2 separate regions of the Homo sapiens genome follow, and region 2 is linked to region 1. The links come from fine-mapping of genetic effects on gene expression. Tissue or cell type: cerebellum. Region 1 holds a variant in brackets; the other region holds the start of a gene. All regions are shown on one strand. Distances are between the middles of the regions.

The links. PIP is the estimated chance that this variant, and not a neighbour inherited with it, causes the effect.
Region 2: HECW1 starts here. The variant in region 1 is fine-mapped to the expression of HECW1 in cerebellum (GTEx, PIP above 0.99).

What each region holds. Positions count from the first base shown.
Region 1 is chr7:43,515,675-43,523,779 of GRCh38, reverse strand. All of the region lies in intron 24 of HECW1 (HECT, C2 and WW domain containing E3 ubiquitin protein ligase 1), which reads right to left. LUARIS (lncRNA upregulator of antiviral response interferon signaling) reads left to right here and starts at 1,238. Exons shown (of 3, transcript NR_038276.1): 1 at 1,238-1,492. The variant T/G (reference allele first, on the strand shown) is at 3,317.
Region 2 is chr7:43,108,671-43,116,775 of GRCh38, reverse strand. HECW1 (HECT, C2 and WW domain containing E3 ubiquitin protein ligase 1) reads right to left here and starts at 4,129. Exons shown (of 30, transcript NM_015052.5): 1 at 3,839-4,129; 2 at 2,385-2,619.

The sequences.
Region 1 (8,105 bases):
CCCCTCATATCACCAGCCTCTCCCTCCCTCTGGTTCTTGCTTTCGGCGCCTCTCTCATTAGTAAGTACATCTGCAATCTACACTTGCCATTTATTTCCCTCGATCTCAAGGAAAAAGGGGCTGACTCTTTTCTTTTTTTCGAGATGGCGTTTCCCTCTTGTTGCTCAGGCTGGAGTGCAATGGCGAGATCTCTGCTCACTGCAACCTCCACCTCCCGGGTTCAAGCAATTCTCCTGCTGGGGCTGACTCTCTTTCAAAGCTAATGTCTTCACTTGGGCTATCTATTGTCTTTCCCTGCCTCCTCTGGGCTCTTCTTCCATCCACTTTTTGCTCTCTCTTATAATTCAAGATTTCTCTCTCTTCTGACATTGTCTCCTCAAAGGCCTTGCATCCTTCTAGCGGCCCCACAAAGCCAAGCTCCTAGAAAGAGCAGTTTTCAGGGCTGTTTGATGCTGGTGTTTAAAAATACGAGCAAGGCCAGGCATGGCGGCTCATGACTATAATCCCAGCACTTTGGGAGGCCGAGGCAGGTGAATCAACTGAGGTCAGGAGTTCGAGACCCCCCCCGGCCAACATGGAGAAACCCCTTATGTACTAAAAACACAAAAATTAGCCGGGCCTGGTGGCACACACCTGTAATCCCAGCTACTTGAGAGGCTGAGGCAGGAGAATTGCTTGAACCTGGGAGGAGGAGGTTGCAGTGAGCCAAGATCGCACCATTGCACTCTAGCCTGGGGGACAAGAGCGAAATTCCATCTCAAAACAAACAAACAAACAAACAAGCAGAACTACCTTTGGAAAGAGAACACACAGTACAAAGAGTAGGCGGAAGTGCCAGCAATAACATCCCCACCACGGAGCTGTTTTTGGAATAAATATTAGGGAAGCAGAGTTTTGATTCTCTGCAGCTCCCTGTCCTCCTGGCACAATCAAATTTCCCTGCTCCTGGCTTTTATACCAAGGCCAGCATTGCTGTCATTCCCTGTGCTCCGTGCACATTCTTGTGGGCTGAGTTCAGGGTTTGGCCACAGGCTAGTCTCCTGTCTCCACAGCTAATAGGGGGTTTGGTGTAGGCCCTGGCATCCCCACCAGTGGTTTGCTTTGTAATTTTTCCCTCTTGGCCTGTGGGAGGACTGAGGCATGGTGTCTAGAACTCCTGCGCAGCTGCAGGCCTGCTTGGAGGGTGAGGTGGCTGTTGTGGGGCAGGTGAGAGCACGCCAGGGCCATAGCTAACCTCCAGCCTTCATGAAGAGCCCATGGCAACTCTGTGGGAATCCTTCCAGCAGCCCGCTTATGGCTGGAGACAGAGGTGTGGCTTCTATCTAAGCTTTTCCCTCTGACTCAGTCCAGGAGGCAACTGTCTTGGGAAGCAAATGATAACAGCATCTGGGAGATTCTCTTCTGGATGGACTAGCAGGGAATCAGGACATGAACTCAGTGGACTAACTGCACCGAGACTCACCTGGTCATTACTTGAAGGTCATTACTTAAAGTAAGTTCTTCAGTTGCCAACATTTGAAAACTAAAGTGTGTGGTTCAGTTATGCTGGTCCAATAATCAGAGAAGTCTAATATGTGAGTGTCTTAGTTCATTCCTGTGGCTATAACAAAATACCATGGCTTGAGTAATTTATAAATAATAGAAATTTATTTCTCACAGCTCTGAAGGCTGAGAAATCCAAGATCAAGGTGCCAAAAGATTCAGGGTCTGGTAAGGCCTTGTTCTCTGCTTCTAAGATGGACACCTTGCGGTATCCTCAAATGGCAGAATGGGAAGAGCAAAAGGGACTAGGCCACTCCCTTCAACCTCTTTTATAGGGGGACTGATCCCATTCACAAAGGTGGAGCCCTCATGACTTAATCACTTTCCCAAACGCCTCACTTCTTTTTCTGTTGTTGTTTATTTTTGAGATGGAGTTTTGCTTTTGTTGCTCAGGCTGGAGTGCAATGCAATTAGGCTCACTGCAACCTCTGCCTCCCAGGTTCAAGCGATTCTCCTGCCTTAGCCTTCCTGAGTAGCTGGGATTACAGACATGTGCCACCACGCCTGGCTAATTTTTGTATTTTTAGTAGAGATGGGGTTTCACCATGTTGTCAGACTGGTCTTGAACTCCTGACTTCAGGTGATCCACCCGCCTTGGCCTCCCAAAGTGCTGGGATTACAGGCATGACTTTCCTTGCCCAGCCAAGGTCTGACTTCTTAATACCATCACCTTGGGGGTTAAGTTTCAACCTATGAATTTTGGAAAAACACATATATTCAACCCGCAGCCATGACGTATTCCAAGGCTGAAAATGTTTTCCTAAAACTCTAGGCCTACAGAAATACTTTTAATCCTGCAAAAATTTTGCTTAACCTTTTCTTTTTCCAGTCTTCCATCATGAAAACAGTGATTCTCAACAGAGTGATTTTGCCTCCTAGGAGAATTGTGGCAATGTCTGGAAACATTTTTGGTTGTGACAGCTGGGGGTGATCGTGGTGGTGCTACTGTACCTAGTGGGCAAACTCACTCTCTCAAGGCCTTTTATAAGGGCCTTACTCCCATTCATGACTCTGCCCTCATCGTTTAATCACTTCTTAAAGGCCCCACCTCTTAATATCATCACGTTGGTGATTAAGTTTCAACATATGAATTCTGAGAGACGCATCCGTCAAACCACATCAGGCACTCTTATGTCCTTTTGGTGAACTAGGAGGCTGAGACTCAGATAGGTTAAGAAAGCTGCCCAGGTTCTACTGAGAGTTGGAGCAGGCATGAAACCTGGGTTTGCCTTTTGCTGTGTGGCACCTGCCTCAGGACCTGAAGGGTGCTGCCTCCATGCCAGAAACCACGCTGGCTGCAGAGGGCAAACCTGAACAATAAGATGTTGCCCTGATCCAGTTTAAAAGCTAACACAAAGTGGCCAGGGAGGGATGGAAGGAGAGACGCAGACAGTAGATTAGAGCAGTGCTTTCTCAAGCTATTTTGCACAGAAGCATAGAGATGGGGAGGAGGAAGAGCCTGAGGGGCTCAGTGAACCAGGCACCCCTCCTTGCCAGAGGCAAGGCTTCACTTTCGTCTGTTCTAGATTGGAGAACAAGGTTCCAGCTAAAAGGGTTTGGAAACCTTTGTGTTTTTTTTAAAAAAAACCTTAAAGTAGAATAATAATAATAAAAAAATAATTCAAGAGAAGATGAACATATTTGTCTTGAGAAGGTGCAGGAAATCATGAAGAAATCATGAATGAACTACACAGTATTTTAAGTGGATTTTCAGGGTAGGAAATTTGCGCCCATGTAAATGAGAGAAGAAGAACAGAAGAAACAATCGCGCACA[T/G]ATGGGCAGCAGAGCAAAGCCTAAGGAAGCGTGGGGAGGGCAGAGGAGGAGCTGCCCGGGAGAGGCAGATGGTGTCTCAAGGCAGGTGGTCCTCGTGCTTTGGCTGTCCTGAGAATCCGAGGAGTCCAGACTCCATTTCGTAGACAGTAGGGAATTAGTAAAGAGGTCTGTGCTGAGTAAAGGGGGGATAAATGGAAAAAGAGATAAAGAAGGGAAGAGACCCAGGGTAGGGTGAGCATAGTTGTACCATATACATGAGGCATTCACAATATGCCAGGAGCTCATGTGTAGAACAGTTTGTAGAACCCAGCATCAAGTCCTTAGGTGATAAGAATAGTGCATTGATGAATGCATATCTAAGACATTTGTTTACCACTAATAATTAAGCTAAGACATTTTTACCAAATGGCATCTTGGCTGTAAGAGATTTATTTATTTTTTACCCACAGATGTAATTTTTATATAGACTTTGGCTTCTCCTGGCATGGCTGGCTCCTGTTACCTCGGCTCATCTCCTGTGACACATATTGATAATCTAAAATGTGCCCTTCCATATTTTTTATCTGAATCATATAATCACATACTAATATATTTATATTTACATATCTCTAGCTACATACACACAGGCTTGGGGTTACTATTTTTCAGTTTTTGAATTGCGTTTTTCATGCTTTTCTGCTTTTCTTCTCTCAACAATATCTTGAGGAAATCTTTCTCTATCACCTGGTAAGGTTCTAATTCAGTCTTTTTTATGCCTCATATGACTGTGCAGTGTGGATCTGCTGTAATACATTTAACCATTCCCCTGCCGATGGACATTTGCATTGCTTCTAGGTTTGTGTCTTTACAAACAATGCTGAAATAAACACACCTGGGTGTTTTGTGCGGCAGTCCAGCATAGCTTTTAAAAGTCTGCACTAGGCCAGGCGCGGTGGCTCACGCCTGTAATCCCAGCACTTTGGGAGGCCGAGACGGGCCAATCATGAAGTCAGGAGTTTGAGACCAGCCTGGCCAAAATAGTGAAACCCCGTCTCTACTAAAAATACAAAAATTAGCCGGGTGTGATAGTGGGCGCCTGTAGTCCCAGCTACTCAGGAGGCTGAGGCAGGAGAATCGCTTGAACCAGGAAGGTGGAGGTTGCAGTGAGCCAAGATCGTGCCATTGCACTCCAGCCTGGTGACAGAGCAAGACTCTGTCTAAAAAAAAAAAAAGTCTGCACTCTAGAGTCAGACTGCATGTGATTGCTCCCTACCTCTGTCACTTACTAGCTCTTGTATTGGGCAAGTTTAAACCTCTATGGGTATGAGTTTCCTCATTTGTAAAATAGAGGATTATACTAGGTTATGTAATTCATGTTGAGCCTTTGCAAAAATACCTGGCCCATAATAAGGGCTCAATAAATATTACCTGTTATTACAAAAGTACTGAATATTAGTGCTTTTGTTTCTATGAGATAACTTTATGGGCTAAAGGGTATAGGGGTTTTAAAAATTTTAGTTTATATTGTGGATTGCATTCCCCCCTGAAAGGCTATAAAATTGCTTTCATGCATGTTTCTACCAACAATGCATGAAAGCATCCTTTTACTTATGTCCCCTCCAAAAATAAATAACTCTTCAATTTTTGGCAATTTGATCGTTATAAGGTGATATATCATTGTTACCTTAGTTTTCATTTCCTTCACCACTGGAAAAGTTGACATTTTTTAATGGGTTTATCAATCATTTGAATTTGTTCTTCTCTGACCAACTTTTTCATATTCTTTACCAGTTTTCCCAGGGTTGTATCTCCTCTTTTTTTCAAGTTGCAAGAGCTCTTTGAAATTTGTATTACAGATTTTCAACCTCTGATTTTCTTGAGTTGCAAAGATTAATTTTCAAGATCAAAGCTTGTCTTTTGACCTTGTTTATGGTATTTTTGTCAGAAAGTATTTTAACTTTTATATATTCAAATACGTTTTTTTTTTTTGAGATGGTGTCTCACTCTGTTGCCCAGGCTGGAGTGCAGTGGCGCAATCCAGGCCCACTGCAACCTTTGCTACCTGGGTTCAAGCAATTCTCCTGCCTCAGCCTCCTGAGTAGCTGGGATTACAGGCATGTGCCACTAGGCCTGGTTAATTTTTGTATTTTTTAGTAGAGATGGGGTTTCACCATGTTGGCCAGGATGGTCTCAAACTCCTGACCTCAAGTGATCCACCCGCCTTGGCCTCCTAAAGTGTTGGAATTAGAGGTGTGAGCCACTGTGCCCGGCCTTTCTTTTCTTTTATAGATTCTAGTTGTTGATTAAAAAGATTGTCTCTAAAAAGGTCTCTACCACTCAAGGTTTCTTGAGTTCATTTTATGTTCTCAATAATTTTTATGTTCTAGCATATGCATAAATTCACCTAGATTTTCCTGAAGAAATTTCATTCCTTTTTTTCACGTATTTTCAAAGTAGAGAGGAATCTAACATAATTTTCTTTTGGTTGCATACCCAGTTACAGTACTGGCATCATTAACTAAATAGTTAATTCTTTTCCTACTGGAAGTTTCTCACACATTCTGAAGAAAGCTGGGTTCAGAAATAGGACAGGCAGAATCCCAACCAATCCCGTACATTCTATGGTGACTTCTCATCTAACTTTTGCTCCACATCTTCTTTGAGAATTGATAGGGAGGCTACTGAGATTCAGCCAGAGATGGGGTCAGCAAAGCTCTTGTAGGTGTTCGTGAAAGAACCCAGGGGCTGTTGTTAGGGGTAGGGCTGGGGCTGGGGCTTACCTGATCTTAAACTCAGATCAAAAGTCCACACTGAGCTCTTTTGTCAGGAGGGCCCTGGGAGGTTGAAGGGCCATGAGACACCCAGTGGGATCTCATAATGTTGTGGTTTCTACCTACTAATTCAAGACTCTGCAGATGTAGCAAGGGATATTTAAAATGTGTTATCCGGGACTTCTTAAGTTCCATAAAACTCTACAATTACACTTAATACCCACTTACCCACTTGGCCAAACTCTAAACATGCACAAAAGAGCTTCCCTCCTCCCCCACTTCCCCTTGCTAAAGACCTGAAAACAGAAGATTTTTACCACCCAGGTAGTATCTGCTTGGGAAGGGAGAGAGGTCGGGGCTGGGGCAGAAGGGGGCAGGGGAGTCTGTTTATTTTGCAGTTAGCAAAGGGCCTTGGGATCCTCTTGGAAATTTTGGTTTGAGAGGTGGTAAAATGTCTGATTGTGACAACTGTAAGGTTAGATTCGTCACCACCACAGACATAAATGAGCTCACAGACATTTTGGTGGCTGCAGAGAAACTGATTAACAGCATCAAATCTGAAATCTGGCCCTGAAAATCCTTCTCACACTGACAATTATGTAAAGAGTGACTCATAACGTAGTCGTTTCTTAAAATGATACATGTTAGCACAAGCATAGGCCACATAACCACATTTCAGTTAATGACAGACCACATATACAACGGCGGTCTCAAAAGATTATAACGGAGCTGCCCTATACAGGTGTACCATTTCTTATCTTCTATACAATAATTTTACTGTACTTTTTCTATGTTTAGCTATGTTGAGATACACAAATACTTGCTATTGTGTTACAGTTGCCTAAGGTATTCAGTACAGTAACATGTTGTGCAGGTTTGTTGCCCAGGAGCAATAGGCTATAGCATAGAGCATAGGTGTGAGGTAGGCTCTGCCATCTAGGTTTGTGTAATTCCACTCTATGATGTTCACGCAATGATAAAATTGCTTAGTGATGCATTTCTCAGAGGTATCCCTGTCGTTAACTGACACATGACTGTACTTAAGACAAAGAAAATGTGTCTGAGGCGCTGGTATTCTTCCTAGGAATAGAGAAGGAACTCACCTATTTCAGTTGTTCAGACTTTTAGGGCATCTCAGATTTGCTCCAGGAAAAGTGACATTCAGAATGATTGGGACAAAAAGAATTTCCAGTGGTGATTTCAGAGAGAATAGTTGGTAGGAGCTTAAATGACACTCAACAATGAGTGAGAGGCTCCAAATTTACTTATTTATTTTTACTGTTTTTATTTATTTTATTTTAGTTTAAATATTCTGAACTAAAAATTGAAATGAGATAAAAATTCTCATTAACCAAGAAGTTTTACCTGAGAAGTATTCCATCCGTCCATCCATCCTTCCACTCAACCATCCGTCTATCTGTCCAGCCTGTCTTCTTCCCTCCCTCCTTTCTTTTTTTCCTTCCTTCCTTCCACACATATTTACTGAGCGCCAAGTATGTGACTAGGAAAGCTACAGCCAAGACTCTGGTCTCACTGGGCTTACATTTTCGGGAAGAAACGACAACGAATTATAAACATATTAATACTTTTTATAGTGATAAATTCAGTCAATATATTAAAGTAAGATGTTAAGTTGGAAAATTATAAATGGATGCACTATTTTAAATTGAGTGCTCAGGAAAGACCCTTAGAGAAGGGAATGTTTGAACTTAAATGTGAATCTTTCCTATATAAACATAATAGTTTGAAACTATATGCATTTGCAATATTCATGCATTGTATTAGACATAAAAATAAATTTGGACCTTTCACAATTCATTTATAGTTTTGTTTTTTATGCCTCCATTCAAAATATGCGAGCATTTTAACTTGGTAGTTTCTTATATATAATTTTGCAGCAAGTAAGTGAAGAGTTTCCAATGACACAAAGTTTTGGTAAATATTAAAAATGTTGAAATAACATATCTCACAGCATCTGGGAGTGTGCTACTATAATCTGGCTAATTCAGATTATAAAGAAGTATCATTTAAAATAGAGG
Region 2 (8,105 bases), 410 kb after region 1:
AGCATTTCATACTGTTTTCTCTAAAAGTCCGTGAACATCAAATGTGCCAACGGCTGTTTTACAGAGAGGACATGTGGGTATTGCAACTTCCTGGTTTCCTAATGTAGCTTGTCCTGTTTTTTAGGATGGAAAAGGAAGCAGGTAAATGGGAGAGAAGCAGGTGTCTTGATGTCTGTAAGTCACACCTGTTAGTCTAGAAACCTGCCATTGGGAGACTCAGTCAAGCTTGGCTGGCCCAGGAAGGATGGTTGTCTCTGGTCTAACTGTAGGTCATTTCAGAAGCACTTACAGTGGTTCAATGTTGCTTGAGCAAATAATGAGTAGACATTCCCTAGACGTGTCCATCATCCTAGCAAGCTCTGGTTGATAGAACCAGGACTTAGAGAGAAAGTGGGCAGAAGGGTGCTCACGTCTTCTGTTTAAGTGTGGATTAGAGGTTAAAGTGCTTGGGCCATGTTTCCTTCTAAGGCCAGAGCAAGACAGAACAGAGCAGTTATCAGATAAATTTTGTCAAAATGGATAATCCAGATCATTCAAGGAAAAAAATAAATAACCAAAACCTACAGCATTTGAACTCATTCTCTACGTGTTTTTTTGTTTACTGAGGGTGGGTGGTGGAAGGCCTGGATTTGAGTCCTGGCTCTCGGTTCCCCCTTAAGCATCTTACATAACCTCTCTGATTCCCCCAGCTGACTCACAAAGTGAAGGATTCCTACCTACCTCCTGCCTATACAATTAGAGGGCATTTTTATGACCTGAAATCCACTCAATAAACATTTCTGAGAACACATGATGTACCAGGCAAACTGCTAGGTGCTGGAGAGATGAATATAAACATGTCCTTGTTCTGAAGAAGCTCATCCCATATTTAAGATAAGGAGACTGTGGCACATTTACAACTCAGATAACTGCAATATTGTAAGTGCTATCTTAGCTCTATGAACAAAAAGGCTATGGGAAAACAGGAGAAGAAGTGGTTAATTATGCCTTGCAGGGACTGTAATTTCAGGATATTATTTTGATTGTAACTTAAAACAAATGAGTGCACAACTACGGAAAATTGTGTGGCTAAGCATGAATCAACAAATACCTTGACTATACCTAAATTATAAAAATTACCATAGCGCATGAAAACACTGCCTGCCTGCCTATTTAGACCAATCATTGCTTCACCCATTTTTGTGACAAGCAACAGCGCTAGCAAGTTTTGAGAGCAACACCAAATTACATCAGAGAAAGTAAGTCTCATGCCATTGTCAATTACTGCATAGGATGAAACAGCTATCTAGAGTGTCTCATTAGAAACAAACAAAAACCAATGATTGGAAAAAGTGAATTCTCAATTATCTAAGATGGGGTTGGAATGAATAACTCCACAAAAGGAGAACACCTGTTATCCAATTAATTCAATCTTCTTCTCTTTTCCCCAACCCTCCACCAAATGTTTTGCTATAGTGGACAAAAAAAAAAAAAAAAGACCTGTTTGAGTTGGTGAGTAATTTCACTTATGGGGAAAATGCAGACGCTTGGGTTTTAAAAGCTGCAAGGTATAAAAATAAGCCGCAGATTCTACAGTCAATCCTTGGTTTGCTTGCATGGTTCACGTTATAATTATTTGCCTTTCCAACACTGGGTAACTTTTCTTACTCCTCTGTCAGTTACCACAGAATGCTGGAACTAGAAAGAACGATAGAAACCAGCCAGTCCAACTTCCTTTACCATGAGGAATGAGACTCAGGCTTGTCTTTCCATATCACATCTGGCCTTTTAATATTTCTTTTGTTAACAATCATATCAGATGGAAGCATAATAGAAGGTAAAGCTCAAAGTGATCTTGTAATACATCCATCTTTAAAAGCCAGAGTGTAAAAGGAATCAAGTCAAATGATGCTATATACACAAATAACAGAGCTGCAGTCCCTCTGTATTGATACATTGATGGGCTGTTCCAGCTCCGGATGTGACCTCCCTATCAAGTCAATAATGTCACAATCTAAACAAACTTAGGCAATTTGCCTTCATGAAAAAACTACTCCAAAAAAAAAGAGAACTGTCATTCCACAAAGCAGCCAACTGCACTAGACTGGGATTATAGTGTGGAATTAGTCAGAACGTGGATTATTAAATAAAACACTAGAACGGCCAATTTGCCTGGAGGTCTAGGAATTAAAATAGTGCTTTGTTTTTCCAATGCCACATTCCAGAGGAAGCAGCAAGCGGAGGGAACAGGCAACAGGGAATTCTACCAACAGGGAATTCTACCACAATCTATCTCTCTACCAAACAGGCACACACATTCATACCAGGGTGGGCATGTGGACTCTAATCCCTTCTTAGTGGAAAACACACATTTTTAAATGAATCCCCAATCTAGAATGAATTACCGTAATAGCCACAGCCGGAGTGAGTCTGCTGATGAGAAACGCAGATCTGGCCACCTGCTTTGAGACGCCTTGGACCACAACACTGCCGGGGTCTTTAACGGTTGGCCTTTTCGGGTAGGGCATCTGCCCTCCTAAATCGCGTTTAAATCCCAGGAAAAGAGAGAAGATGCCTCCCTCAATTTTTGAACTATGCTGCTCTTGCTGTATCCGTTTCTGCTGAACATAGCATTGATATCTTTTCAAAGAGAAGGGGGGAAAACAAGGGGAGAATTGCACCACTGCAGATTCCAAGAGAAGTAAGCACAAAACTACAGCAACGTCAAATAATATCTTCTTCGGCAACTAGGAAAATCCCCACATGCTCTCTGGTGTCAGCCCAATGCAGACTGAGGCGCGCTGTGCCCGGAACCACAGGAAGCCGGGCATCTCTGCAGCCTGTGTCCCTGCCAGCTCCCCCTACGCGCTGAAATTCGGCAGGGAAGAAGTTATGGTGCCCAGCCTCTGTGTGCAAGACAGAGACACCGCGCATCATGGCTCTGAAAATCAGCCAAGTGGCCGGGACGTCAAAGCGGCAGAGCAATCAGAATGCCCTGGAGCCGGGGATGGAGGGGCCACATTGTTTGAGCCCTCGGATTTTGCTGCATTGTCACCGCCCGGGAACGTGGGGGTAGCAGGAAGCGCACCTCCAGCCAAAAATGGACCGGACGCATTCCCCCCCCCTCCCCGCCCCGGCAGCTCCCTCCCTGCCTGTCTGCAAGTCGCAATACGGTAGGCGACATGACTGCTCCCGCTAAAACTCAGGTGGCAGGCCCGGCTGAGCGGCGCAGCCGGCCGGTAACAGGGAGGCGCTGGGGGAGCACCCACACAGCGCCTCCTCCCCTCCTGCACCCGTCCATGGGAGCAAGGGCCGGACCTGGCCACGCGCCCCTCGAGCGAGCACCGGCGAGCCCGTGCGGAGGCTCTGGGCGCTCTCTGGGCTAACCACGGGCATTGCATGGGACACAATTGTTCAAAAGCGAGCCCAAGGCGAAGCGCAAATCCAGAGCTTTGGTTCACAAGGGGTGGGTGTGGGCTGGGAAGGGGGATTACGTAGGTCTCTCCGCCCCCTCCCCTGACACCTCCTCGCCACTGGGAGGGCGCTGAGGGGCGGGGGAGGCGCTGCGAACCCGCTTGGGGGCTTCTTTGTTTCTCTCCGTACCCCGCAGGAGGGCCGGGTGCGCCTGCAGTACCCAAGCCGGGGTCGCCACCCGGGGATGCCGGCCCGGACCGGGCGGCGGCGCGACCCAGGCTGACAATTGAACCTCGCGGGAGAAGCGAGAGGGTGGGGAGGAGGGTGGATCTCGGCCCCGAGAAGGGAGGGCGCTGCCGGGGCCTCGCGTGCGGCGGGGAAGCCGCCCAGAGAAGGGCGGGGGGGAAGGGGCGGCAGACAGTGTCCCCGCGCTACGCCCGCTTACCTTGGCAGCCCTGGCCTGGGCACAGATCATGCTCCTGTCAGCGCGCAGATTAGAGCTGGGGGGCGCACGTGCCCCGCATAGTGCACCGGGCGCCTGGGACTGGCTGGGGAGGGGACCCTGGCGACCGCCCGCTCTCGCTGCGCTCTGGCTGCCGGGTGCCCCGAGAGAGCGGAGGCCACGGCCACTGTCACGGCGGAGGGGCGCGCGCGGCTCGGCGAGTGTGTGCGCGAGGAGGGGGCCGGTTCGGTCAGAGTCGCACGGTGTTCCGGCTCCAACAACAGCGCCTGATGCGCGGTAACGCAGCACACTTCATCGCTTTATCCTCCCGCTTGCATCCCCTCCCTCCCTGCCTGCTCCTCTGTGGGTACCAGACTCCAGAACCAACCACAAGCCGGGCTTGCTCTCATTAGCGCTGCCCCGCCCTGCAGCCTCCGCGCACCCCCACCCCCGCCCCCGCGGTAAATATATATCGATTCTTGTTACCGCCGGCCCCATCCTTCCAACACCCAGCACGCGTACTGGGCATATCCAACACCAACCCTGGCTCCTCGGCCCTTTTGTGTGTGTGCAAACAGTGTAGCAGAAAGGATGCGGTACAGACACTCTAGGCGGGTACCCTGTGACAGGTGTTCTTGGCCTCTGTCTTAGACACTTTCCTCGCTTACCTTACACACAGTTAAGAACGCTCAGAGACACATTTCAGGAACCGTCCTGTATTTGCACAAGCACACAAAACATCGTAATGACAAATGCAAAGGATGAAAATCACCCCAGAATATCTATTGTTGGGCAAACCTAGCTCCCAAACCGCGTTTTCTATTACACTGCACACAGTGTCAGAATGCTAGAACGAGAAGGAGGCAAAGTCTAGACCCTTCCAGGTACAGCCAACTGAGATGCAAAGAGAAGTGAAATGCTGGTTACTATTGGTGGTTGGCTGCTCCATGTATGCACATTTTTGTGCATCTGGTCGACATTTGGTTTGTGTGTGTTCACATAAAATGCAGAGGCTTTGAGCACATAATCTCTATAGCCTGGGATTTTATGATCCAACCACATTCTCTACAATGCTGATTTATTCCTTCCCATTATTTTGCCCAGCATCCTCTACATGAGCTTTTTTTCACTTTCTGAGAAGTTATCTTCTTTCCCAGACCCCAAACTCCGCCTCCTCTAGAATAAACAAAGGCTTCACCCTGACTTCAGAACTCCTTACTGAAGACCTGAGTACGGACTTGTCAAAACCAAATCTCCTTCCCCTTCCACCCACAGTGGCTAGTTTCTCAGTGCCTCTCATTCCACTGACCTGCCTCTTGGCATTGATTTCACTCTTACAACTGGAACTTTCCAGAACTGGAAACTTTGGACGATGTGAAGGCAGCTTCACCAGCTGTGCTCTTTTCTGCAAGGAGGCACAGCCCTTCTCTTTCCGTATTCCACTTGGGGTGCCCAGTCCTTTCCTGACAGACCCTTTTCTTTGCCTGACAGCAGTCAGATCTTCTGGTCAGATGAGCTCAAAGCAGACCATTTTCAAACCTTAGCTAAGAATCCACACAGAAAGCTGTGCACACATTTCTCCGGATTTTACACTTGGATTAGTACCAACTCCTATATGAAGAAAACTCTCCGAGAATAGACTTGAACAGGCTGTGGCAGTAAACAGCAACAGCAACCAACCATGTGATGTTTCCAACCAGAGACTTGAAAGAAAACAAAAACTTTCACATAAACCAGCATCCATGGTTTCTAAATTAGCACAATGTCACCAAACCACAATAAAGGATAATTTTTTTACCTCAACTAATTGCCAGGATGTTCACCTCATTATTTTCAGTGAATCAGCATCAACTTGGCTCAGAGATGTTTGCTCTCTGTTCTATCCATCATGGAGATGACTTGACAAGTCCACATCTCTCATAGAGGTTATTGATGTAGCAATCCTTGTGGTGTGCTTTATCCTCCCCTGAGGAGTTGCTTTTTTTATACTGAAGACAAAAGATATTAAAATAGCAGTACACAAAGTTTCACATCCTGAGTAGATAAAGAAGCCTTGTAGAGCAGCTTCTACATGTCAGGTGCAATGGCAGCATATACAGACTCCTGTGTATTGTCCCCTTTTATTTTTATTATTTTTATTTTTTGTGAGGGGTCTCACTCCAATGCCCAGGGTGGAGTATAGTGGTGCAATCTCCATTCACTGCAACCTCCGCCTCCCAGGCTCAAGCAACTCTCCCCCCTCAGCCTCCCGAGTACCTGGGAGTACAGGTGTGTGCCACCATGCCTGGCTAATTTGTTTTTTGTATTTTTAGTGGAGATGGGGTTTTGCCAAGTTGCCCAGGCTGGTCTTGAACTCCTGAGCTCAAGCAATCCTCCTGCCTCAGCCCCCCAAAGTGCTAGGATTACAGACGTGAACCACCATGCCTGGCCTGTTTTGTTTGTTATTCCTAACAGTCCCCCTGTAGTCTGGGTAGCATGATCCTATTTTACAGAAGAAAGCAAAAAGGCTATGTTAGTTCTGTAATTTCCTTAAGTCTTGTTTCAAGCAGAAGACCTTGAATCTGGAGTTTACAGATGTCAGCTGCCCTAACCTTAAAGAGAAGAGTATTTGGTGGAGAAAGGAAAAGACATGGCATGAATCTTAAAGCCATCCTAGTAGTCATATTTATTAAGTTTCTAATGTACTCAAAATACTGTTATAAATAATAAGTCACAGTCCCAGTGCGTCCCTCCTAATACTAACCTTATATAATGGCGTAAAGTGAATGTTGAAGGTTTTGAGATGCATATACAAACACCTGTATTATCATAATGCCCATGCAACCGAATCTTCCACCTTTTGTAACTCGAGGCCCAGGAGGACCCAGGGAGGGGGTGACATGCCTGCTCACCTGCTCATCTCAGGCCACATGCAGATAAAGATTAGCAAACAGAGCACCATTCACAAATGGTCCCTACAATGCTGAGAAAACGATAACTTGAACCAATCCGGGGCTTTATCTTTGGGGATAGGCCTTCAACATAATGTCGGAAGTGAACGCACTATAACTAGGGGAGGAAAAAGACCGAGCTGTTGAAGCTATCTCACATAGTCTCTGCACAGGAGCAAATTGTAGCCAATAATACAAGATTGTCATTTGGACTTTCCTAATGACTAATGATGGTGAGCATCTACTTTTGTGCTTCTCTTCCATCCGTCTATCATTTGTAGTAAAGTGCTCAAAATTTTTGCTCATTTTTAAGTGGGTTGTTTGCTTTTATATTGTTCATTTTTGAGAGTTCTTTCTGTATTCTAGATACAATGTCTTTGTCAGATAAGTTTTCTGAATATTTCCTCCCCATGTGTGGCTTGTCTTTTCATTCTCTTAGTAGTTTCTGTCACAGAGTAAATGTCTTTAAAGTTGATGGAGTTCAATGTATCAACTTTTTCTTTCAGAGATCATGCTTTTGGTATATCTAAGAACTCTTTTGACTAACCAAGGTTACAAAGAGTTGTGTTTTGCTGATAAGTTTCAAGATTTTACATTTTACACTTAAGTATTTGGTTCATTTTGAATTCTTATTATTTTTTAGGTGTGAGCTATGGATGGTGACTTTTTTATTTGTTGGCTTGTTTTTGCACATGGGATGTCCAATTCTTCTAGCACCACTTATTGAAAAGATCCTTTCTTGATTGAATCGCTTTCGCAACTTTTCAATAATCGCTTGGTTAGATTTGTAGGGGTCTCTTTCTATATTCTCTGTTTTGTGCCTCTGATCTGTCTTTCTATTGTTTTACAAATAGTACACTATTTTGTAGATGTATACTGCCTTAAAATCAGGTAGTGTGAACCCTCCAATTCTGTCCTTTTTAAACATTATTTTGGCTATTTTCATTTCTTTGCCTTTTTATATGAATTTAGAAATGGTTGTCAATATCTACAAAAAAATTCCCACTGGGATTTTGATTGCAGTTGTGTTAAATTTATAGATGAATATCAGAAGAACTGACATTTTAACAATCTTCCAATTTCTGAATACCTTTCAACCCACAAACTTAGCATTTCTCTGCATTTGTTTAGGTTTCCTTTGATTTATTTCATCAGTAGTTGAAGTTTTCAGTATGCAAATTCTACACAGATTCTAAGAGTTTCCATGTAGATTCTAAGAGTTTCATTTTTTTGGTACTATTGTAAAAGGTATTGATTTTAATTTTGAATTTCACTTTGTATTAAAGTGTACCTGGGATTTGTTTTAATTAAGTATGCACATGCAGACATACAGACATGGA